Linked DNA regions of Homo sapiens. The protein of the gene in region 4 interacts with the protein of the main gene of each other region in a pairwise test. Each region holds a gene or a part of one and is shown on either strand. Other genes may lie near its edges.

What was found.
Region 1: the proteins of RABGEF1 (region 4) and DCTN2 interact in binary tests that used the Homo sapiens proteins (3 or more experiments, as listed by UniProt).
Region 2: the proteins of RABGEF1 (region 4) and TRIM15 interact in binary tests that used the Homo sapiens proteins (3 or more experiments, as listed by UniProt).
Region 3: the proteins of RABGEF1 (region 4) and GPRASP2 interact in binary tests that used the Homo sapiens proteins (3 or more experiments, as listed by UniProt).
Region 5: the proteins of RABGEF1 (region 4) and THOC1 interact in binary tests that used the Homo sapiens proteins (3 or more experiments, as listed by UniProt).
Region 6: the proteins of RABGEF1 (region 4) and TCHP interact in binary tests that used the Homo sapiens proteins (3 or more experiments, as listed by UniProt).
Region 7: the proteins of RABGEF1 (region 4) and CCHCR1 interact in binary tests that used the Homo sapiens proteins (3 or more experiments, as listed by UniProt).

Annotation. Positions count from the first base shown.
Region 1 is NC_000012.12:57,540,693-57,544,192, reverse strand, and holds part of DCTN2 (dynactin subunit 2), read left to right. Parts: intron 1-1,202; exon of another isoform or gene 1,203-1,217; coding exon of another isoform or gene 1,218-1,247; intron 1,248-2,820; coding exon of another isoform or gene 2,821-2,829; intron 2,830-3,500. UniProt on the Homo sapiens protein: Part of the dynactin complex that activates the molecular motor dynein for ultra-processive transport along microtubules. In the dynactin soulder domain, binds the ACTR1A filament and acts as a molecular ruler to determine the length.
Region 2 is NC_000006.12:30,166,546-30,169,869, reverse strand, and holds part of TRIM15 (E3 ubiquitin-protein ligase TRIM15), read right to left. Parts: intron 2,695-3,324; coding exon 2,599-2,694; intron 1,571-2,598; coding exon 1,340-1,570; intron 630-1,339; coding exon 607-629; intron 1-606.
Region 3 is NC_000023.11:102,715,448-102,718,233, reverse strand, and holds the end of GPRASP2 (G-protein coupled receptor-associated sorting protein 2), read right to left. Parts: coding exon 848-2,786; 3' UTR 501-847; downstream 1-500. Other genes in the region: ARMCX5-GPRASP2 (G-protein coupled receptor-associated sorting protein 2), read right to left, coding at 848-2,786. UniProt on the Homo sapiens protein: May play a role in regulation of a variety of G-protein coupled receptors.
Region 4 is NC_000007.14:66,771,733-66,775,232, forward strand, and holds part of RABGEF1 (rab5 GDP/GTP exchange factor), read left to right. Parts: intron 1-150; coding exon of another isoform or gene 151-167; coding exon 168-346; intron 347-1,958; coding exon of another isoform or gene 1,959-2,095; intron 2,096-3,494; coding exon 3,495-3,500. UniProt on the Homo sapiens protein: Rab effector protein acting as linker between gamma-adaptin, RAB4A or RAB5A. Involved in endocytic membrane fusion and membrane trafficking of recycling endosomes. Stimulates nucleotide exchange on RAB5A. Can act as a ubiquitin ligase.
Region 5 is NC_000018.10:219,548-223,047, forward strand, and holds part of THOC1 (THO complex subunit 1), read right to left. Parts: intron 1-3,500. UniProt on the Homo sapiens protein: Component of the THO subcomplex of the TREX complex which is thought to couple mRNA transcription, processing and nuclear export, and which specifically associates with spliced mRNA and not with unspliced pre-mRNA.
Region 6 is NC_000012.12:109,906,774-109,910,273, reverse strand, and holds part of TCHP (trichoplein keratin filament-binding protein), read right to left. Parts: intron 2,749-3,500; coding exon 2,575-2,748; intron 1,689-2,574; coding exon 1,576-1,688; intron 1,404-1,575; coding exon 1,337-1,403; intron 1-1,336. UniProt on the Homo sapiens protein: Tumor suppressor which has the ability to inhibit cell growth and be pro-apoptotic during cell stress. Inhibits cell growth in bladder and prostate cancer cells by a down-regulation of HSPB1 by inhibiting its phosphorylation.
Region 7 is NC_000006.12:31,141,939-31,144,870, forward strand, and holds the end of CCHCR1 (coiled-coil alpha-helical rod protein 1), read right to left. Parts: intron 2,851-2,932; coding exon 2,749-2,850; intron 1,476-2,748; coding exon 1,324-1,475; intron 1,197-1,323; coding exon 1,025-1,196; intron 779-1,024; coding exon 654-778; 3' UTR 501-653; downstream 1-500. UniProt on the Homo sapiens protein: May be a regulator of keratinocyte proliferation or differentiation.

The DNA.
Region 1 (3,500 bases), on a different chromosome or scaffold from region 4:
CAAGAGACAGCTGTATGCTGAGAACTTTACTGCACTACCACAGTTCAGACTGTTCAACTTAGGCCTAGGCTTCTGCCCTTCATGGTGAGATAATGAATAGAACTCAGTCCTTTTGTCGCTGTGATACAAACAGGTAGTTTCACAGTAATCCTCTTTCTAAACAAAAAAATACATATTGTCATTCCCTTTTGAAGATACTGGGATATCTCTTAATAAAAAGGAGATGACACCCATTCCAGGTGTGGAAGAACCTGACTGTGCAGCTCTGATTGGCTGTTTCTCCCCCAGAGCCTGAACAGCCTATTTTAGTAGCATCTAGTGGGGTGGCTGATGAGGAGAGGATACTGTGAGTGTTCATTTCCTGTGGCATGTTGCCCAGGATGCCAGTATAGAAGTGCATATGAGCTGAATGGCAAATACAAGAAGAGCTGAATTGTTTCTGTCACCTAAGGCTCAGCTAAGTGACTCTCTGTCACTAGGGAGGAATGGGGTGGGCAGACCTTCAGCCACTTCAGGGGCCCGAAGAGCCAAGATGTTTCCTGATGTCAGCTAATGTCTCTGGCCCCCGCATGTCCCTATGGGGCTTGCAGCTTTTGGGAAGTCAGCTGAGTAATGGCTCTGCCACTGCTTTTAATACTGACGTAAATATGCAATTTGAGGAGCAGTGAATTGTATGCTTAGATAATCTAGAAATGTCATGTCCGTGAGGCCTGGGATCTCACCAGCAGCCTGTCTGTTTCCTGCCTACCTGCCCAAGACCTAGTACAAGTGACAGTGCACATGACCTGTCTTGTGGCTGAACCATGAGATTTTCAGTCACCTTCTTTTTTTTTCTTTTTTTTTTGAGACGGAGTCTCACTCTGTCGCCCAGGCTGGAGTGCAGTGGCGTGATCTTGGCTCACTGCGAGCTCCACCTCCCGGGTTCACGCCATTCTCCTGCCTTAGCCTCCCGAGTAGCTGAGACTGTAGGCGCCCACCACCACACCCGGCTAATTTTCTTGTATTTTTAGTAGAGACGGGGTTTCATGTGTTAGCCAGGATGGTCTCGATCTCCTGACCTCGTGATCCGCCTGTCTTGGCCTCCCAAAGTGCTGGGATTACAGACGTGAGCCACCATGCCCAGCCTCAGTCACCTTCTTAACCCCTGACAACAGCATTCTCCGCCTTAATCTTCAGTTTATTTTCAACTTTAATTTTATCAGTTTTTAAAGTAGGTAATGTATGCACAGGGAACAGAGGATTCAAGGGTAAGTAGTGAAAAATCTGCCTCCCACCTCTGCCTACCACCACTCAGTTCTCTTCCCTAGAGACAACCAATATGGATAGACTCTTGTGGAACCTTTCAGGGGGTCTCCAGATTTCTTTTTGGTTTTTGAGACAGAGTCTCACTCTTTCCCCCAGGCTGGAGTGCAGTGGCACAATCTTGTCTCACTGCAACCTTTGCCTCCCCGGTTCAAGCGATTCTCCTGCCTCAGCCTCCCAAGTAGCTGGAATTACAGGCATGTGCCACCACACCTGGCTAATTTTCTGTATTTTTAGTAGAGATGGGGTTTCACCATGTTGGCCAGGTTGGTCTCGAACTCCTGGCCTCAAGTGATCCATCCATCTTGGCCTCCCAAAGTGCTGGGATTACAGGCGTGAGCTACCATGCCAGCCGGGTCTCCAGATTTCTGTCTAAAGGAATAGTCAAGTTGTGTTGACCCTCACTGCTCCATAACTTTCTTCCTGTGATTCCTCCACTGTGGAAGAAATTGGGCTACTAAAGGAAAAATGTCCTCAAACATCCCTTAAAGATTTAAATTGCTAATTTAACTTAAACATAAACATTTTCCGATTCCCATAGTGGGGAGGATGGGGGAGGAAAGCATAAAAGATTTAAATTTTGCTACAGATGATCGTGAATTTTTTTTTTTTTCAAGATGGAGTTTCACTCTTTTTGCCCAGGCTGGAGTGCAATGGCGTGATCTCAGCTCACTGTAACCTCCACCTCCCGAGTTCAAGAGATTCTCCTGCCTCAGCCTCCTGAGTAGCTGGAATTACAGGTGTCCATCACCACACCCGGCTAATTTTTTGTATTTCTAGTAGAGACAGGGTTTCACCATGTTGGCTAGGCTGGTCTCAAACCCCTGACCTCAGGTGATCCACTCACCTAGGCCTCCCAGAGTGCTGGGATTACAAGCATGAGCCACTGTGCCTGGCCAATCCTGATTTTTCTACTATCCCTTTAAAACAATTTTAGCAGGAAGTAAAATCTTCTAAAACAGGAATGGACCAGGAAAGTGCACGGGCTGTAGCCCTTTCCTCCTCAATCTGGGAAGATCTCTTTGCACTTCAGACACTCCCAGGTTAATTGGGGCAATAGGCTTGCTTGGAGATTTTTCTTAAAATGTTTGGAAAACTAATTCCCAAATAGAATTCCACCCACACACACACCCCGACCCTAACCCCTGGGCCCACAGCCTGCCTTGGGTCAGTGAGGCTTTCTGCTCATGGCTTTTGAACTGCTGGAATAAGGGAAGTAAATTAAGAAAAACCTCATTAGAAACAATTTAGCTTCTCTCTTTATGGCATAACTACCCGCAGTAAAAGGGGAAAAAATGACCTAGCCATAGTTTGATGGGGCCCTGGCAGAGGCTTCATTTCTCCAAAAGGTAGATATTACTGGACACTCCTGAGATGAGAAACAGTACTTCCTTACAGTTTAGAAGATCCTGGAGTATGCTTGATTGTGTTCATTGACTGTTGGCGCACTTGAACTTACCTGAGTTTTTCCTAATGCTTCCCCCATCCTCCCTCCTCACCACCTTGCCTGGACACTAGTTTGCACAAGTAAGACCATTCAATGCTTCTTCTCTGCATGTTTTTTTCATCTGCCATCTCGCATGCAATGCTCTGCCACTGTGCTATTGTTGTAGCTAATCGTTTTAAATTCCAGTGAGTCCCTGGCTGGGTCACTGAGGGGCCTGCTGGCCTTATGTTTAAAGATCATTAATCAAGGGTTAGAAACAGCTATGATCCATGAATCATTGTCTCTTCCCCTTGTGAGGTCTGCAGAGTAAAACTGTCCAGTGGAGGATGGGATAGAAGCATGGAGGCTTTAAATGTTTTTGAACATGAGGCATTTAGGGGCTGGAGTTAGAAGGCAGTTTCCTTTCTCCTCCTCAGACTAAGATCAAATGAAGATTTTTTTATGGAATGACTTTTAGCTATTCTAGACAAGGATAGAAAACAAAAGGGATGACAGCCACAGTCCTCAGTTCTTGGCTGTATGTGGATTATCTCTGGGAAAAACTCATTTTAATATTCCCCTATGCTAGGTCTTTAGAGAAATGTAAATGGGATGAGAAGGAGGTTTATATGCAATTGTAAGATAACTTGGATTATTTGTGCTTTTGTGAGTCTTTCTGTTTCTGCACCCCTCCTTTTGAAATGGATGGATGGTCAGCAATATATTGATCCATCCCGGACAGTTTTACTCTACAGCTCTGTCCATCTTCCTT
Region 2 (3,324 bases), on a different chromosome or scaffold from region 4:
GAATAGGCACAAAGCACGTGACAATTGTTCCCTAGTCACTACACCTCTCTTCATCTCAGTGCAGACTGCTAATGCTTATAGCAGACAGGGAAGGAAAGGGCCATGCATTTACAATGCCACTGGCTCCTGGTGGCTGTCCTTTTACAGTAGCATTAGAAAATTCTGAAGGAAACCAGAGATGTGTGTAAAAAATGAATGAATGAAAGAACAGGCTGGTATTCCTGGTTTCCATGCTTATCATAGTCTACAGAAAGTATTCCCCCTTTAAATTACATTTTAAATGGTGTTAGATACTGACTCAAGTACTAATAATTTCATAGATTAAATAAATGTTCCTGGATCAACCTAAAAACATGATTATTATTTATAACTTCACTTCTAGGGGAAAAAATGTGTCCCCAATACCAACCAATCAATTTAAAAATGAACCTTTAGAACGCAAATCTTTAGTGAGTTTGGACTGTTTGTGCACAGTTGAATGAGACAGTGTGTCTGCCAGAGTGCCTTTGCTTTCCTGGCAAAGTGGGTGGCAGTAAGTGCCCCTGCCCCTTCCCATTCAGTCTTGATGTTGAGTAAAAGGAGGCAGGACCGGGGAGTGGGCCCTACCTGCTCTGGTTGACTCTGACATCCTGCAAAAGAAAGACAAGAACATACATTTAGTTTCCATAAGTCCTTCCTGTCAGGGATTCTGTACATCACTTTTCCCTTAAAATATGAACTCAAAACTCTCCTTCTGCAGAGAGTTGTCCTGTTTAATTACCTACTCATTAGATTGTTCTTTTACATCATGTTTTCTTACTAATTTGGGTTTCTGTAGTCAGTTCATTTGTGCTGGTTTCCCTGTTTCAGCCTTATCGTGGGGGTGGGTTGTGTCTGCAATGATTAGGAGGTGGTAGAGAGCAGGGGCCTGCCTTCAGTTATCAGCTGGACCTGATGTGAGCCAGGATCACATATTCATAACCATAGCAGACACCAGTTATTGAGTTCTTTCTGTATATCAGGAATCATGCCAAGCATTTTTTATGGATTGTTTCTTATAATTTTGCAATAACTTTATGAGGGAGGTGCTATTGCTGTCCCCATGTTTAGAGAGGCTAAGAGACTCACTCAAGTCACACAATTGGAAGAGCCAACATTCAAATCCAAGACTGTCTGACCCTAAACCCCTTAACATGACCACAGTGTATGACTTGGGCAAGTCTCCAGCCCCTCTGGATCTGCACCCCGTTAACCTCTCTCCACTTCCCTTTCCTGCCTCTCTCCAGCCCAAAGCATGGTGCCCACCCCCTTCCCCGTGGAGTCCCTCTCTTATCCTACAAAGTGGTGAAGTGTCTCTCACTTGTAGAAGCTCACTTGCTGGCTGCTGACACTTCTCCTCCAGCTCCTTGACCTGGGCTCCAAGCCGGGTGACTTCCTCAGAGACCTTTGTGATATATTCATCCCTCTCCTTCCAAATCTGCTGCTCCAGCTCCCTCAGCCTGGCCAGCAGGAGACATCGCTGCTGCTCCAGCTCCTGCTGCAGCCTCTCAAAAGCTGTTTCCACCTGATGCTTCTTGCTTTCGATCTGAGTCTTCAAGGGATAAAAGGCAGACATGGTTAGGAAGGGGCTCAGAGATAGCTTCCAGGATGATCATCTATATACTTATTATTGATTAACAGGGATAGGGAGCAACTGGTCCAAGACTCATTCCATTTACTAATATGCCTAGAAGTAGTTAGGTCTCAGGATGAACTTACCAATGATGAGGGCTGTGCTACTGTCTTAGCTAGATACTCTAATAATAATGCTACATTATGCTCTCAGAATGATGTTGAACTTTTCAAAAATATTTCCACAACTACAATACCATCATAACCCTACTATGCCTTCTTAGAGTTAGGTGGGGAAGACTGTAATAATTTCTTAGAGGCAAAAGGAAGTTGTGATTGGAGTCAACACAACTTAGTGGGAGAGTGTGTAATTTTGGTTTTAGCCGTGGAAATCACCAACTACAGGGCATACGTTGATGAGAGCTGAGGGATGGTGGATAGGTTGCTTTGTCCCCACACTCTCTCCTTGGTCAAGGTACCAGAAATCCTCACACTGTGATTCCTCCATAACTTTATAGCATGAAAAGAGAGGCGTGAGGGATCCAGATGTAGCCACACCATCAGCCTACTCTCCTCAAGGTCAGCCTGTAGTCAGGACTAGAATCCCGACACTAACATATGTTTTTGACCCCAAGCTTCCCATCTGAAGGTGGTGTGTTCAGGCAAACAGACTAGGATGGAAAGAACAATGAATTAAGGGTCAAGAAATCCAGGTTCCTCATGAACTTCAGCTTTGCTATGTGGCCTTGGGAGCATTGCTTTTCTGGTCCTAAGTTTTCTGCTCTGTAAAATGTGATATACAAGATGGATCTTGGATTGCAAGACATCAGAACCACTTCTAGTGCTCATGGTCTGAGATCCCAAATGCCTTTGTGCAGCCACAGGAAGGTGAACGAGAACAGTTTGTCAGTTCTTTTCAGCCAGGAAACAGATACCAGCCAACGGGTTTCCCCAGAGTCTCTTAAGAAAACCTTCAAAGGAAAAGGTAGCCAGTGACGTGGCCTGTACCAGCAGCACTTGAAGCTTCTGGTCTTCTTGACACTTTACATCCTCAATCTCATCTCTCTCCGTGCTCAGAGCTTCCAGTCGACTCCTGAGACGATCCTGTGGGGAGAAGAATGGGTGGATAGAGGTGACTGAATTAATAATTCAACTCACAATTATTAACTATCACATCCTGGGCACACTGTTGAGTGCTGAGGGGTTCAAAGGTGGAAAAGGCCCAGTCCTTGCCCTAAAGAGACCACCATCTCAGGAAGAAGTCAATGTCAAGTGATTAAAATACAGATAGATAAATGCAATAGTCCAGGGGTACACACAGTGAGATGGGAACACAGAGGTCAGCTCTGCCTGTAGGCCTAAGGGAAGGTTTGGAAAGCAGAAAACATTTACAATGTGCCTTGAAAGATAAATTTCCAGTTGAATAGAGAGGGAGAGAAAAGGACTTAGTGCCCACAGATGTGAAGGACCTCTTCAAGGAGAACTACAAACCACTGCTCAAGGAAATCAGAGAGAACACAGACAAATGGAAAAACATTCCATGCTCATGGATAGGAAGAATCAATATTGTGAAAATGGCCATACTGCCCAAAGTAATTTATAGATTCAGTGTTATCCCTATCAAGCTACCATTGACTTTCTTCACAGAATTAGAAAAAACTACTTTATATTTCATATGGAACCAATAAAGAGCCCACATAGCCAATACAATCTTAAGCAAAAAGAATGAAGCTG
Region 3 (2,786 bases), on a different chromosome or scaffold from region 4:
CTTCCCAACTTTCTAACTGCATTTCTCATCAAACTCCTTTTACTTGTTTCAAGCAGACTGGGTTCATCCATGCTACTAGAACAGATTATTCAATTACACACTTTTCTTCAAACCACCACTGCCCACTTCCAAGAGCAACCTAATGATTTGTCTTATCCTACCCTTAGGCAAATCCCAGGGCTAAGATGGTAATTTAAATGGGTCCTATAAGAAGTATTAATTTTAGGTTGCTTGTTGGGAAGGCTCATAATTGGGCAAGCAGGCGGGCAAGTTGTCTTGCTCTCCTATCCTGACCAATTTGTTCTATCCTGACCAATTTAAGTGGGTCCCTCTTCTCGGAAACATTCCTCAAGTATCAGGGCCCACAATAATCTCTCCCTTCTTAACTCAAGAACAGAATTTTCTAATAAGCGCATGTTTGTCATACTAATAATTACCTATGTTTGTAAGTGCACACGATTTATCTGTACATGGTTCTTAAACTGAAGAAGGGTCACTTATGCCAATTTTAACATAGAACTTTATTGAAAACACAGACTCAAATAGAGAACCATATATTTAAACAACGAATAGCAGGGTAGCTTACTTAGGTGACACAGTTCATTGAAAACTTAATACTGAAAAATACCGCAATCTGGACAGCAAGACAAATATCAACAAATGTGTTTTCAGTTTTGATATTCATTTGGCATCCACAAAATGATCCAGCTCAAAACAAGAGTTTGACAAAGTTAACATCAGCATTAAAAAATATAAGTTACAACAAAAAAACAGACTGTGAACACCAAAGCACTACTCAGGGCTCTTTGGGAACATAAGGCTGATCAGCGGCAGGTGGTTAATCATATTAACTTTGTTGTCCCACCTCAGGATCATTTTGGTTGTCTATTTGGGCTTGTAGTTGCTTAGCTAACTCCTCAAATTCACGAAATGCAGAAATAAGCGGCTCAAGACTGAAATCATCATCAATTAAGGACATCTTTCCACTTTTTATAATGTTACTGATATTCTGAAACATTTTAATAACAATTTGAATATTATCATTTGTCTCTTCTATGTTAAAGAGACCCACAAATATTGAAAGAGCTTTGGCACTGAATAGTTTTTTTGCCACAGCAGGATTTTCAGACAAATTCAATAGCATTTTCAGAACGTGAAACTTCGTTCTCGCATTGGCTGTGGTTAATAAGGAGAGAAACCCGGACATATAGTTGGCAATCAGTGTGTGATAGTCAATAGTCATAGTGAGGTGTCTAAGCATCCTTATTCCAGTCAGCTGCTCAAGGGAATCCACACTATGTGCAAGGGTTTCCTCACACACTTGACATATGAATGTCTCAATCATGTTTAGATTTGGATAAGGTGGAGCCATGTGAATCATATTTTCCAAAAAACTTGTCCTAACTCTAGAGGATGGATAATTAAGCAAGGTTTCAATAAGTGAGACAACACCTGAATCTCGAATGAAATCTCGGGTAAATTGAGAAGCACTTCTCATACCCATTGCAATTTTAGATATTTCATGAATAAAAGGATCCCGAATTTTGTCCATTAATAAAAGGAATTCTTCAAACTCTTCAGAACCAATTTTCAGCTCACATTGTATGCAGCTGCAGGACCAACTCTCAGACTCTGCACTCTCCCTGGCCCTAAGATGCTCTCGAATTTCCCGGACTGACCGGTAGGAAGGATCATACTGAAATGTGAACTCAGGACTAGGCTGATCAGGCTGAAGCAAAGATTCCTGCTCTTCTCCTTCTGGGCTAAGTTCCAGGTTCTTGGGCTTTGCCTCAAGCATTTCAGAAGCCTCTTCGGGAATTCCAAAGGGGCTTGTGGATCGGAAGCCAACCCCATGAAAAAGACCAGGTTTGAATTCAACAGTGACCTCGTCCCAGGTTTGGGGCCTGGAGGATGCATTAAGCTCCTCAGCTGCATCTCTGAACCTATCACTGACCTTGTACACAGGACAGGGATTTAGGTCAAAGCAGGCCTCATCTCTGTCCCAGAACCAGGACCCAAATATGGCCTCTTCTTCAGACTCCGGCTTGGCCTCTTCTCTGGCCACAGCCCCCAAACTGGACTTTTCCTCAGCCCAGTACGCGGATCCGCCAATGGCCCCCTCCTCAGTTCCTGGCTCAGATTCACAGATTGCTGAAGCTCCACCCTCCAAACTGGCCTCTTTTTCTGCCCAGAACCAGGACCCAATAATGACTTCCTCCTCAAACCTGGGTTCTTGTTTGACCCTATCACTGTCAACATCTTTCTGGGCCCTGAGTTTCAAGGCAGTATTAGGATCTTCTTTGTCTCTGTGCCTGAATCTACTATTGGCCTCTTCTCCAGGCAAAACCCAGGACTGCTTATAGAACTCATCTTCAGACTCAGATTCAAAACAATCTTCTCTATTTGTCCTGAGCTTGGACCTGATATTTGCCTCCTCCCTGACTCTGGGCCTGAACAAGTTATTGGTATTTTCTCCAACCCAGAAGGAGAATGGGTTGCTGGCCTCATCCTCAGATCCAGACCAGGAATCAACATAGGCTTCTTGCTTGGATCTGGGCCTGGACCTGGGATTAGTCTGATGTTTAGCCCTGTGCCTGGACCTGGTATTGGACTCTTCCCTGGGCCATGATCTGACACTTGTCTCTTCTCCAGTCCAGAAAGAAGACGCTGTAGAGGTCTCATCTGCTGACCAGAACCCAGACTCATTAGAGGCCTCCTCTCTGGCCCTGGGCCTGGAATAGCACCAAGACCCCATATTAGTCTCCTCCCCTGGTCCAAACCAGGGC
Region 4 (3,500 bases):
CCTCCTCTTTCTCCCTCCCTCCTTCATTCCCTCCATCCCTCTCTTAACAGCTTGAAGATAATGGAATCACTCACTTTTTGTTCATAATTGGTAAGATTTTATTTAGTAGAATGATAATTCATTTTCAACAGCACTTTCTTGTTTGTTCAGTGGTTAGCAGGAAGAAGATGAGCCTTAAGTCTGAACGCCGAGGAATTCATGTGGATCAATCGGATCTCCTGTGCAAGAAAGGATGTGGTTACTACGGCAACCCTGCCTGGCAGGGTTTCTGCTCCAAGTGCTGGAGGGAAGAGTACCACAAAGCCAGGCAGAAGCAGATTCAGGAGGACTGGGAGCTGGCGGAGCGGTAAAAGGACTTAACTAGGGGCGGTTGAACAGTGACGTGACTGGATACATAGTTCTGTCACCGTCTAAATACATTTTTTCACTTCTGCTTTGAGCTATCAGCAAGTCAGTTTAATATTAAGGAAAAGGATGTTTTCCTCTCTTCTTCTCAGTCAGCTTTTAATGAACAGCTTTCAGTAGTTTCTTCATTTTGTGTTTGTCTTCTGATTATTTTCTTTGGGTTGTGTTAGTTTTAGTTCTCAAATGTAGACAATAAGCTCCTTGGAGTGGAAGAATGGAGATAGGCATATTTCCTGGTGAAGATTAAATGAGCTAATAAATTTGACGTACCCACTGCAGGGCTTGGAAATGGCACTCATCAAGCATTATTTCCCTCATTCTTTTAATATATATTTAGCATGGCATCTAGCTCAGTGATAAAACACAGTAGTAGAAATCTGTTGACTTGTATACATAGTCATTGCATTGTAGAAATTTAACTTATATTTAAAAATTAGGTTAGCATTTGGTATTATCCGGAAATATAATGATGTTAAAAATTAAACGATGGGCCGGGCGCAGTGGCTCACGCCTGTAATCCTAGCACTTTGGGAGGGTGAGGCAGGAGGATCATCTGAGGTCAGGAGTTCGAGACCAGCCTGACCAACATGGTGAAACCCCCTCTCTACTAAAAATATTAAAAAAGTTAGCCGGGCATGGTGGTACGCATTTGTTATCCCAGCTACTTGGGAGACTGAGGCAGGAGAATTGCTTGAACCCAGGTATCGGAGGTTGCAGTGAGCTGAGATCATGCCACTGCACTCCAGCTTGGGAGACAGAGTGAGACTCTGTCTCAAAAAAAAATAAATAAATAAATAAATAAATGATGGGATGGCTAGTGAGCATAGGAACTAATAAAATGCCATGAATAATGTTAATTCTTTGCCAGAGCATTCTAGAATTCTAAAACTGCTTCAACAGAAGAAAGTCAAATGGAATTCTGCCAACTCCTCTAGCTAGTTGTTTGTTTTTTTTTTTTCATCCAGTCAGCCAATATTTGTTGAGTGACTCCTTTGCTGTCATTTGTAGTGAACTCAGAGAATTAGAAATTACACATTGCTTTCAGTGACTGTGTTCAATCAAAGAGAGAAAATTTTAGCCGAGAACATGAATGATCTCCTCAGGGTTTCCACTGCATGCCTGATGCTGTCAGTAGCAGATCCTGTTTCAAAAACAGAGTAGAGGCCACTAGGCACAAACTCCCTCAGCTTCCTCCCCTCACCACATAAAAATGTCCTAGTACCTTTATATTAACTTCTTGTCTGTCCCAGAGAAAGAGGGGTCCCGATTCCACCCTCAGACTTAGCACCTCCACCTGTGATTTTTGTTTCTATTTCTTACTGCTTTTAATTGTGACCCTGCTAAATCTCTCGGAAAGCTTGTAAAAGCAGTGATTGCTGGACCTTACCCACAGAGTCTCTGATTTTAGTGGCTTGGGAGTAAGACTAGAGAATTTGCATTTCTGACAAGTTGCCTGGTGATGCTGCGCTGCTGTCTGGGGAATCATACTTGGAAAATCATTGTCTTTTAGATAGTGCTTGTGCTTTTTGTTTGTTTGTTTGTTTTTGAGACAGGGTCTTGCTCTGTTACCCTGGCTGGAGTGCAATGGTGCAATTTCAACTTACTGCAACCTCTGCTTCCTGGGCTCAAGTGATCCTCCTGCTTCAGCCTCCCAAGTAGCTAGGACTACAGAAGTATGCCACCATGCCCAGCTAAGTTTTGTATTTTATGTAGAGACAGGGTTTCACCATGTTGCCCAGGCTGGTCTCAAATTCCTGAGCTCAAGTGATCCGGCCGCCTTGGCCTCCCAGTGTGCTGGGATTACAGGCGTGAGCCACTGCACCTGGCCTGTGTTTGGGAATTAATACAGGTGGTTCACATGCAGCTAATCCAAAGCCAAATTTATTGCTTTTATTTATTATTCTCCGCATTCTGAACATTTTCCTCCTAACCCTTCTCCTGAGTCAATTAATGGCATCACTACTTACCAAGTTAGCTAAAAAACCTTGGTTTCATTCTTGATTTCTCTTTTATCTCCCATGCTAGCTACAACTTGACCAAGTTCTATTTCTTCCAACTCAGAAAAGTCTTTTGAATTTTACCTTTTGTACTCCTATTTTCCAGGTGCTTATTTTCTTTTACTTAAACCTTTATAATATACTCTTACTTCTTGTTCCTGTCTCTAGTTTCTCTACCCTTCAAGTTGTTCACACAGCTACCTGCATGATCTTTCTAAAGTACAGATCTGACAGCGATAACTCCTTGGATTTACAGTCTTTCTTGCTTCCCTACCACATGATGAAATCCAGAATAGTGGGCTCAGCAATCAAGATTCCCTACCCTCTGGAGCCTTCCTGTATATCCAGCATCACAGTTCATCACACGCCCAGTGCTCTGGCTACATTCAGCTTGTTGTGAAGCAAACCACAGGCTTGCACATTTGTAGTTCCTTCTTTCTGGAATGTCCTTTCACTTAGAATCCTATTCAGCCTTATTAGTCAGGTGTGGTGGTGTGCGCCTGTAGTCCCAATAACTTGGGAGGCTGAGGGATGAGAATTGCTTGAACTCGGGAGGCAGAGGTTGTAGTGAGCTGATACCATGCTATTACACTCCAGCCTGGGCGATGGAGTGACACTCTGTCTCAAAAACAACCAAAAAAAGGATCCTATTTATCCTTTAAGACCTCACCCAAACATCACCGTTGTAAAGCCTCGTCAGACTCCCCCAGCAGATTGAGTTGTTCTTTCCTGTGTTCTCACAGCACTCAACTTTTACTCTCTGATGTAGCAGCTGTCCCATTCTGTAGCAGTTGTTTACTTACCTTTTTGTCTGTTCCAGCCTTGAGCTTGTTAGGGAAAAGGATTAGACTTGATTTCTTTCATGTAACCCTAGAGCAGTAGCTGAATGAGTATGAGAAGACCCCATTTGAAATCTGTAGTGCATGAAGAGCCGTCCATCCTGTAGCAATGTGAGACCTCAGACTGATTTGGCATATTTAGTCTCTAGGTCTAAAATCTTTAGATCCTCCTGAATTAATGGAGTAATAACCTTCACATACAGAGAAACCTTGGAGAATATCTAGGTCATTCTAATCCTCTCTTGAATTGCAGACTCCA
Region 5 (3,500 bases), on a different chromosome or scaffold from region 4:
TTACAGTTTTGATTACGTGGGAACTCCAGACTTTTAAGGAAGTAAAACCGTCAAAACTAAATTCAAAAAGGACAATAAATAAAGGGGATAGTCTAATACTAAATATTACATAGTATTTACTACATATAATATTATATACTTTAATTACACACTATAATATATAAATATGTTGCTATTCAAAGAGGGCAGCCAGGGTATTTTATAGCATTTGAATTTTACCAGCAAATAAACTTTTACATTAAGTCCCTATCCACGAATTATTTTTTCTTTAAACCAGAATTAAACCAAAACTAATAATCAGACCATAATACGATTTCAAGGGTTTAACCTTTAGCTCTTATTTAAATTGTTACCATGGTAGCATGGTTGATTTTTAAAATGCATCTTTCTTGAATTTGTTTTTAGAAATAAAATTTTGATACAGGGTCAAGCAAAGAAATGAGGTCTCAGGATCAGAAGACATCTTCTAGAGTAAAACTAGGAAAATGGGCTCTTTTAAGAAAACTATCCCAATATCCATTCATTTTCTAATGCTACAGATACTATATTCCATTTTATGAACATGCCCCAAGTTATCCATGTCCTACACAGAGATATTTGTCTTCCCACTCTTTGCTCTGACAATGTTAAATGAACATTCTTGCACCTGTCTCCTTGTAGATGAACTGATTTCTTTAGGCACTGGGCCTTCAAACTTCCACTGCAACCCACAATAAGAAATTCATTTTACACTGCAACCCAGTACACACATATATGCAAGTATATGTACAGATATATATAAGTAAAGCTAATGCTTCACAAAAGTATATTTCCTATTTCATTTAAAAAATGCTAGTTGAAATTACTAAATTGACTTTACAAACCACCAATGATTCTCAAACTTAGTTTTTAAAAACACTATTCTGATCAACACACCTACTAGTGGGGCACAGACATCTTTAACATTCAGATAGAGTGACTGTGCCATCAGACTCCTACCAGCAGCACTGGCAAATTATTTTTATCCATAATTCTTATAAAATCTGGGTATTTTTAAATTACTGAATCTCTTAGCTGGAAACTGCTTGCTGTAGTTTTTAACTGTACTTCCAGTTACTAGTGAAGTTCCCCGTCTTCTCAGAGGTTTATTAAGGTTTCTACTTCTGAATCTGACTATTCATTTGTACATTTTTCTACTGGGTTGATTCACTCTCACAGATTTGGCAGGAATCAATCATGTTAGAATTTTATCTATTTTTCCTGGTTTTTGTTTTTATTGATCTTCTCTTTTGATTTTGTTATCTTCTCTATTGTTTGTTGTCTATTTTACTGATTTCTAATCTTATTTTACTTTCTACTTCTATGAGTTTACTTTTCTTCTGAATGACTCTCAGTGTCAGACTCTTATTAGCTTGGTTTTTAGATTTCATTCTTTTTGAAAGTGTAAACACTTAAGGCTATACATTTCTCTTCTGTGTTCTACTGAGTTAGATCTCAAAAGTCTGAACATGTAGTGTTTTCATTATTATTTAGCTCTACATTTTCCAATTTCCATTATGACTTCTTTGATTCAAGGGTTATTTAGAAGTGTGTTTAAAGGAGTTGTAAGTATTTTTGCTTTTGCTATTCACACATAATTTACAAAAACTTGTGGTTTCTGTAAGACCAAGCCTGTTAATTATTTTGTTAAATTCTAAATGTATTACACTAAGTTTTTTCCACCAAATTTATTAAATTCTGAGAAAGGTCTGTCAAAATCCTACTAGATGGTAGGTTTTCTGGGTGGTGGTGGATGGTGAAAACTGACCCTGGGTCAACTTCTCATTCTAATTTTGTCAAATTTTTGAGAACACATTCTTAGAAAATAAAGTTTAAAATGTGTATATTTCTATTTTTTCCTTTTATCTTTATGCAATGATTGCCTTTATTTTTAATAATGCTTTCTGCTTTTAAGCCTTTTCTGCCTGATATCAATATAACTATGCCTTTTAAAAATTACGTCTTTTAAAAGTTCTTTCAGTTTCAACCTTTCCATATCTTTATTTTTAAGGTATATTTCTTATAAACATATAGATGGATCTTTTTTTTTTTTTTTTTTTTGAGACGGAGTCTCGCTCTGTCGCCCAGGCTGGAGTGCAGTGGTGCGATCTCGACTCACTGCAAGCTCCGCCTCCCAGGTTCACGCCATTCTCCTGCCTCAGCCTCCCAAGTAGCTGAGACTACAGGCGCCTGCCACCACACTTGGCTAATTTTTTGTATTTTTAGTAGAGACGGGGTTTCACCGTGTTAGCCACGATGGTCTCTATCTCCTGACCTCATGATCCGCCCGCCTTGGCCTCCCAAAGTGCTGGGATTACAGGTATGAGCCACCGCGCCTGGCCGATAGATCTTTAAAATATAACACCAATTTCTGTCTTTGAGCCAGAAAGTCCATTTCCATTTATATTTGAATTTAACCATACTGTTTTGTACTTTCTGTTGTGTTTTCTGTGCTTTTTTCCTCCTCTCCTACCTTCTAATTTACTTGCTTAAATTTTCTGTATTTACTTTTACCCCTCAATTTATTTAAAAATTACATATTCCATTTCTTTCACATACTTTACAAGCATGTTTGACTTAAACCATAACATTCTTTAATTCTGACCACCCCTTCTTGTCTTACATGTCACTTTTATCAAGTTTACCTTTTAAAATAACCCTAAATAATAATTATTACTATTTTATAACAGTGAATTCTTGATAAGATTTATTCAGATTTCTTCATGTTTACCAAAGTGTCTACACAGTAATCCTTTCTGCAATTTACTCCTTTCTGGGTTCAGTTTCCTTAAGACAGCTTTTTTACTGGGGACTGTTGATAATTTCTCATAGTTTTAGTCAATCACTCAACCACAACTGTTTAACTTGTTACAGAATTTTTTAGTTGAAATGTTGAAAAAGCAAGTAATACTTCTAGAAATGAGAAAATATAGTCATTGAATTTACAAAACGAGCAGGTTTAACAGCAGTCTGGACATAGGGAAAGTAAGAATTACTGGATTAATGATTAAGAAATCACCCAGAAAGCAATACAGAAGGAGCAAGAGTTGGAAACGATGAGTTAATGATAGTTGAGGAGGTCCAGCAAACATCTAATGGCAGAAAGAAATAATAGAGAATGTGAAAGACATTTTCAAGCACTCATCCCACTGTCTTCTGATTTTTGTTGTTCTTGAAGTCAACTGTTAGTTTAACTTTGCTCCTTTGTAGGTTGTCTGTTTTTTCTCTCTGGTGACTTTATTATCATGTACAGAGATATGGATTTATTTGGTTTATCCTCCTTAAGTATTATACTTCTTGAACCTATGAATTCATGCCTATTCTTAATAATTAACTCAATTATTGCCTCTTTCCCATTCTCTATTATTTCTTTCTGCCATCAGATGTTTGCTGGACCTCCTCAACTATCATTAAGTCATCGTTTCTAACTCTGCTCCTTCTGTATTGCTTTCTGGGTGATTTCTTAATCATTAATTAACCCA
Region 6 (3,500 bases), on a different chromosome or scaffold from region 4:
GGGCAGGGATGGGAAGGGCAGCTTAGGTCTGTCTCCCTCACTTCAAGGGAGCTCATCAAAGTACTTAGGAATACAAAGGAGCTATCTGAAAAGAACAGGTTCAATCTAAGCATAATGACCTTTTTTTGTTTTTTTGAGACAGAGTCTCACTCTGTTGCCCAGGCTTGAGTGCAGTGGTGCAATCTCGGCTCACTGCAACCTCCACCTCCTGGGTTCAAGCAATTCTCCTGTCTCAGCCCCCCGAGTATCTGGGATTACAGGTGTGCACCACCATGCCTGGCTAGTTTTTGTTGTTGTTGTTCTTGTTTTGAGAGAAGTCTCGCTCTTGTCCCCCAGGCTTGAGTGCAACGGCTTGATCTCAGCTTATTGCAACCTCCACCTACCAGGTTCAAATGATTCTTCTGTCTCTGCCTCCCAAGTAGCTGGGATTAAGGCGCCTGCCACCACACCCGGCTAATTTTTGTATTTTTTAGTAGAGACAGGGTTATACCACATTGGCCAGGCTGGTCTCAAACTCCTGACCACAGGTGATCCGCCCGCCTCAGCCTCCCAAAGTGCTGGGATTACAGGTGTGAGCCGCCACGCCCGGCCATGTCCGGCTAGTTTTTGTATTTTTAGTAGAGATGGGGTTTCACCATGTCATTCAGGCTGGCCTCAAACTCCTGACCTCAGGTGATCCGCCTGCCTTGGCCTCTCAAAGTGCTGGGATTATAGGCGGGAGCCACCGCACCTGGCCGATCTTTTTAAAAATTAAGAGATTTAGTGTTAATTGAAGATGCTGAGGAATGCAACCTCAATTAGATTTAAATACAAAAACAAAAACCTCCACCTCTCTGTATGTAAATACATCTAGAAAGATGTGAACTAAACAGGCACCTCTGGGGATAGACAGAGATTGCAGGTGCTGGTCAAGGGGGTGATCTCACTTTGTGTTGTGCTGCTTTTTAAGTAACACAGTTACTGAAAAATAATTTGATGTTTTGATACCTGTATCTATCCATCTATGTATACACACAGACACTGGGAAAGGATCCTTACGGTCAAGCTAATTAACATATCCATCACCTCACAGTTGGTTTTCATGGTGACAACACTTAAGATTGGCTCTCTTAGCAAATTTCAAGAATACAATATGGTATCATCAGCTGTGATCAACATGATGGACACTACTCCCAGATCTCCCAACCGAGGGATGTATCCTTTGACCAACATCTCCCCTTTCCCCCAACCCCTCACTGTCTTCATTCTTACGAGAATGCACTCATATACTAAGCAATGGAAGGCCTTTTTTACAAAAGAGGCTAAGAAAGATGTCAGGCTGTCTCTTCAGACTTACCAGCTCCTCTTGGATCTGCTGTGTGCGTCTGCTGAGTTGAGCGTTATACTGATGTCTCAAGAAACGCCTGAAGGAGAATCAAATGTGGGCTGCCTTCAGTATCTCAGAAAGAATTAAATAGAAGTTAGATAACTGCTGACCAGGCTGTCTCCTTTATGGTTTCAGCAACACGAATGCAAGTCTGAAAAAGCAAGAGGCCCACCCGCCTGGGAAGAGTGGGGGGCCCTTCTGACACACACCCCAGCTCTGCCTTCTGCCGGAAGGCTTCCATCTGCTTTCGCTCTTCCTCCAGCCTCTCTAGCTCCCACCGCTGCTTCAACAGATTCTCCTGCTCCTTCTTTAGTTTGGTCGCCTGTGGTGATGATGAGAGTAAGCTCGACTGAGATCTGAGATCGTGGGAATCAGATCTTCCTTCATTCTCCATCTCCATTTTTCGCAGACACTACACCAACAGAGGCCTGGCCATGCAGGTGGTCACGATCCCCTCCCACCACTCACTTACTCATCCAATCCCCTCTGAGCCATTTCCTGCAAGGGCCTTTCTGAGCCCTGAACTCTAAACTCCCACAGGATCCTGTACTGGTCCACTCTTACTGTAACTTAACAACTGTCCTCCACCTGACACAGCCCCCACCAGGAGGTCAGGACTGTGGGCCTTGGTCAGGCTCTATCTCTAGTTCCCAACCCAGTGCTCAGCACCTAGAATAAGCAGTAGGCACTAAGAATGTAGTTGCTAAATCACGGCCTGGGCAAGGGGAAGTGAGGTCACAGGAGCATGGGCCTCCCTCTTCTAAATAGAAAGATCTCTTTCAAGGAAACTGTGCCATGTTCTCCAAAAACAGCCCCTGGACCAAAAACCCTCAGTTATGCCTCGAGACCCGAAACCTGCTCCCCACGGAGAGCTGGGTGCTAGACCACCCGATTAAATTGTGTCTACTCAGTGCACTGGAAAATCCAGATTCTAAGAAGGTTCTCCAACAGCAGGCCGCTAACCACCTCTAAGAGAACAGCTACTGGCTCCATGTCGTTAATGTTCTGGAATTCAGGCACGCAAACGAGGAGGATGGGAAAGCACAAGGCAGATGGGGATGCATGTGAGAGGGAGAACCCGGCTGCTGCCGCCCTTTGCAGAATCTCAGCCCTGCTATGGCCTCTTCTTAGGGCAGCCTCTCAAGTGCCCATCTCATGCTAACGAGCAGCTGTGGAGGAGGTCACGGCTGAGAGGGGCTTGTGCCCACCTCCACCTCCTTCAGCTTCAGCTCCTCCATCTGTTGCAGCAGTGCCTCGGCCTGGAGCTTGTCCTCCAGCTGCCTCCTCTCCTCTTCAGCTTTCATCCTTTCTAGCGCCTCCCTTCGGGCCCTTTCATATTCATTTTCATACCGTTTGTTCTCTTGCTCTGCGGTGGCTTCTTGCTACAAGGGACCAAATGAACACAGGTCAATATCTGTACCGTAAGCCAACAAAAACCTAGCTTCCTGCCGCCGTTCTGCAGGCCACAGGGCCCAGGCAGTTCCTGCCTGAATCCCAAATGACAACGCCCTCAGACGCCAAGTCAGGGAGGGACTCAATAATGTTGGGTTTCCTCCCCACTCAACAAAACACTTTCTAAAATGAACCAGGCAGCAAAGCGACCAGTGCACAGAGGTGTGGAAGCTTAACCCCAAAGGGGTTACAGTAAGCCAGGGCTGCGAGTTTACGATGCAGATTTCATCAAAAGAGAGACAAAAATGCCCTTAAAGACACACGTCCTAGCTGGACCCTGTGGCCCACGCCTGTAATCCCAGCACTTTGGGAGGCCGAGGTGGGAGAATCGTTTAAGGCCAGGAGGCCAGACCAGCCTGAGCAACAGAGCAAGACCCCATCTCTACAAAAATTAAAAAATTAGCTGGGCGCAGTGGTGCGTACCTGTGGTCCTAGCTACTCGGGAGGCTGAGTTAGGAGGACTGCTTGAGCCCAGCCAGTCGAGGCTGCAGTGAGCTGTGAGTCGCGCCACTGCACACCAGCCTGGGTGACAGAGCAAGACCCTGCCTCCAAAAGAAAAAAAGAAGACGCGTGCTGTATGTGCCACCTCCCAGCCCTGGTCACCTGGCCTTATTCTGCCCTGGGAATTATCACATAGGATTCTGGTATATGTAAGAGCAAACATTCAGTTTTCACATGTGTC
Region 7 (2,932 bases), on a different chromosome or scaffold from region 4:
TCCTGGCCTCCACAGGAGCCCACTTCAGGCAGGCCTCTGCACAAGGTCCCCTGCTCAGAGGCCTCTCCCCAGAGTCAGTTTCTATCATATCATCGTACTGTACTTTCTCTTCAAGCACTTATTTGAAACGATCTCGTTCATCTGTTTAGGTCCCATCTGCTCGCTCGCTCTCCCACTAGGATGTAGGCTCTCAGGGTCCAAGTGGCCCCCAGGCTAATACAGTGCCTAGCTCTGACATTCCTGTTGAACGAGTGAATGTTTCATCTTCCCCACTCCTAGCATTTATCATCTTCCAGAAGAAAAGAGTTTTAAAACAAAAGTTGAGAATAAAGAAAAGCAGGAGCTTCCCAAACATTTCCAAAGCTGCCTAGAAAAAGGATTTGAAAAGGTGCCACCCATAGAGAGAGCTATGGGTGGGACCACTTCTCACAATCTCCAAGAGAGATGGCTGCAGGGAGAATTCCCACAGATTCCCAGAAATAACATTTCCAAACAATGGCTCCTTCTGTAGTCGTCTTTATTTAGAGCAGAATTCAGACTCAGCTGGTATCCCCCAGGGCAACCCCAGGATGGGGAAGGGCTGGTCTGTCCCCACCCACTTCTCCAGGATCCTCCCAGCCCCCAGGCTGGCTTTCCCTCCAACTGTCAGCTGCTTAGCTGCTCATCTGGGGATTGGAGCTGGAGCATCTGTCAAGGTTGTCTCCTTGACAAACAGCTTCCTCTTTGGAAATGGCTTCACTCAGGTCCTGCAGGTCATCGAGCAGGACAGAGAGGGACCCTGGGAAGGAAGACAGCAGATGAGCACCAGACAAGGGAAGGTGCTCGTGGTTACAGAGGAAACAGGGCTGGCACAGGAAATGAGGAATGGGAGAGAGGAGGCTCTTTGGTCCAAGCTGGGCATCGCTAAAAGAGGCTAAGGGCCTCGAAGGACCGCAGAGAACAACACTCATCATGCGAGAGTCTGAAGAGGAGATTCCTGAAGTGCGCGCATTTGTCCCTTGTCCCTTTGTGCTTGGCCCAAGACCTTTTATGGACTCCCTGGTGGGCACTGCTGCTGCTACAGGTGCAGATGCTGAACACTCTGGAGGCCTGGGGCTGGACACCACAGATTTCTTCTTATCCAGTAGGGAAGGAAGAACTGTCAACAGTCGCTGCTGCTTGTAACGGGAGAGGAGACCTTCCTGCTGCAAGGTGGCCTGGGAAGGAGAGGGTTAAACCTAGCCCGGATAGAGCCTCCCTCACCATCCTCTTTCCACACCTCTAGCCCAGGAACCAGCCCAGGATGGGCCCTAGTGTCTGCCTGTCTGCCCTCCTGTCTCCTACCAGCATGAGGTTCTTATCCCTCTCTAGCTCCTGCAAGCGCCGGGCCAGTCGCTGCCCCTCCTCCTTCCGGGCCTCCTCCTGCAGACGCCTGAGTTCCTGGCTCCGCTCCTTTTCCTGGGCGGCTCTGCGCTGAATCTGGCGTAAGGAGACCACTACAGAGAGGCCAAGGCACAGAGGAGGCAGGTGTGAGTCAGGCCAGAGGCAGCCAGGCACCATGAAGACAGGAACAAACGCTGGGTCACCAACTCTGTGGCTTGGGGAGGCTGTTCTGCTCTGTGGATCTGTCTCTTCTGTACAGTTGGAGGGGTGGGCTGATGCTCTAGGAGCCTGGGAATCTGAACCTAAGTATCTTCCTCATCCCTGAACCATCCTGGAGTTCCTCAGGGGAAATCTGAACATGAACTGGGTTAGATTTTGTGCAATTAGTGTTCACTGTCTTAAAGTGTGATGATTGCAGCTATATAGGAGAATTTACTGGCTTTGGGAGATGCGGCTGAACAACTTATGTTTACAACTTACTTAGGCGTGGTGGCTCACGCCTATAATCCCAGCACTTTGGGATGCCAAGGCGGGCGGATCACGAGGTTAGGAGCTCGAGACCATCCTGGCCAACATGGTGTAATCCCGTCTCTACTGCAAATACAAAAACTAGCTGGGCATGGTGGTGGGCGCCTGTAATCCCAGCTACTTGGGAGGCTGAGCCAGGAGAATGGCTTGAACCCGGGAGGCAGAGGTCACAGTGAGCCAAGATCATGCCACTGCACTCCAGCTGGTGACAGAGGAAGACTCTGTCTCAAACAACAACAACAACAAAACATTAAATGATTACAACTTAAAGTGATTCAAAAGATGTACAAATATGTGTGTATATAGATAAGAGACCAAATGTGGCAAATGTTAACTGCTATATTTAGTTAGAGAAGATACATTCATTACACAATTCTTTTTTTGACACATGGTCTTTCTCTATCACCCAGGCTTGAGTGCAGTGGCACAATCTTGGCTCACTGCAGCCTCGACCTCCCGGGTTCATGTAGTCTTCCCACATCAGCCTCACAAGTAAGCTTGGGGTACAGGTGCCCACCACCAGGCCTAGCTAATTTTTGTATTTTTAGTCGAGACAGGGTTTCGCCATGTTGTCCAGGCTGGCCTCAAACTCCTGACCTCAGGTGATACACCCACCTCGGCCTCCCAAAGTGCTTGGATTACAGGCATAAGCCACCGCGACCGGCCATATGCTGTTTCTTAATCTGGTGCTGGCTACATGGGTGTGTTCACGATGTGATAATTCATCTGTGCTACTCCTGGATACCTTCATTACTTCCTGTAATGAAGCTTTGAACACACTTTGAGGGGAAAATAATAACCTTATGTCTTAACACTTCCTTCTTCCTGGAAGGCCCTATCCACCCTGGCAAGGCTCACCGGCCTTGGCATGCTCCCTCCGAGCCTCGTTCAGCCTCCTCTCTGTGTCTGAGAGTTGCTCCCGCAGCCGAGTTTCCACTTCAGCCACCTTTTCTTGCAGGGCTGGGGTGAAAGTGCAGACGGGGCATATCAGCAGGAGCTTTGATTCGCAGTTCCCACCCCACCCTCCAAGGGAAGCACCCAT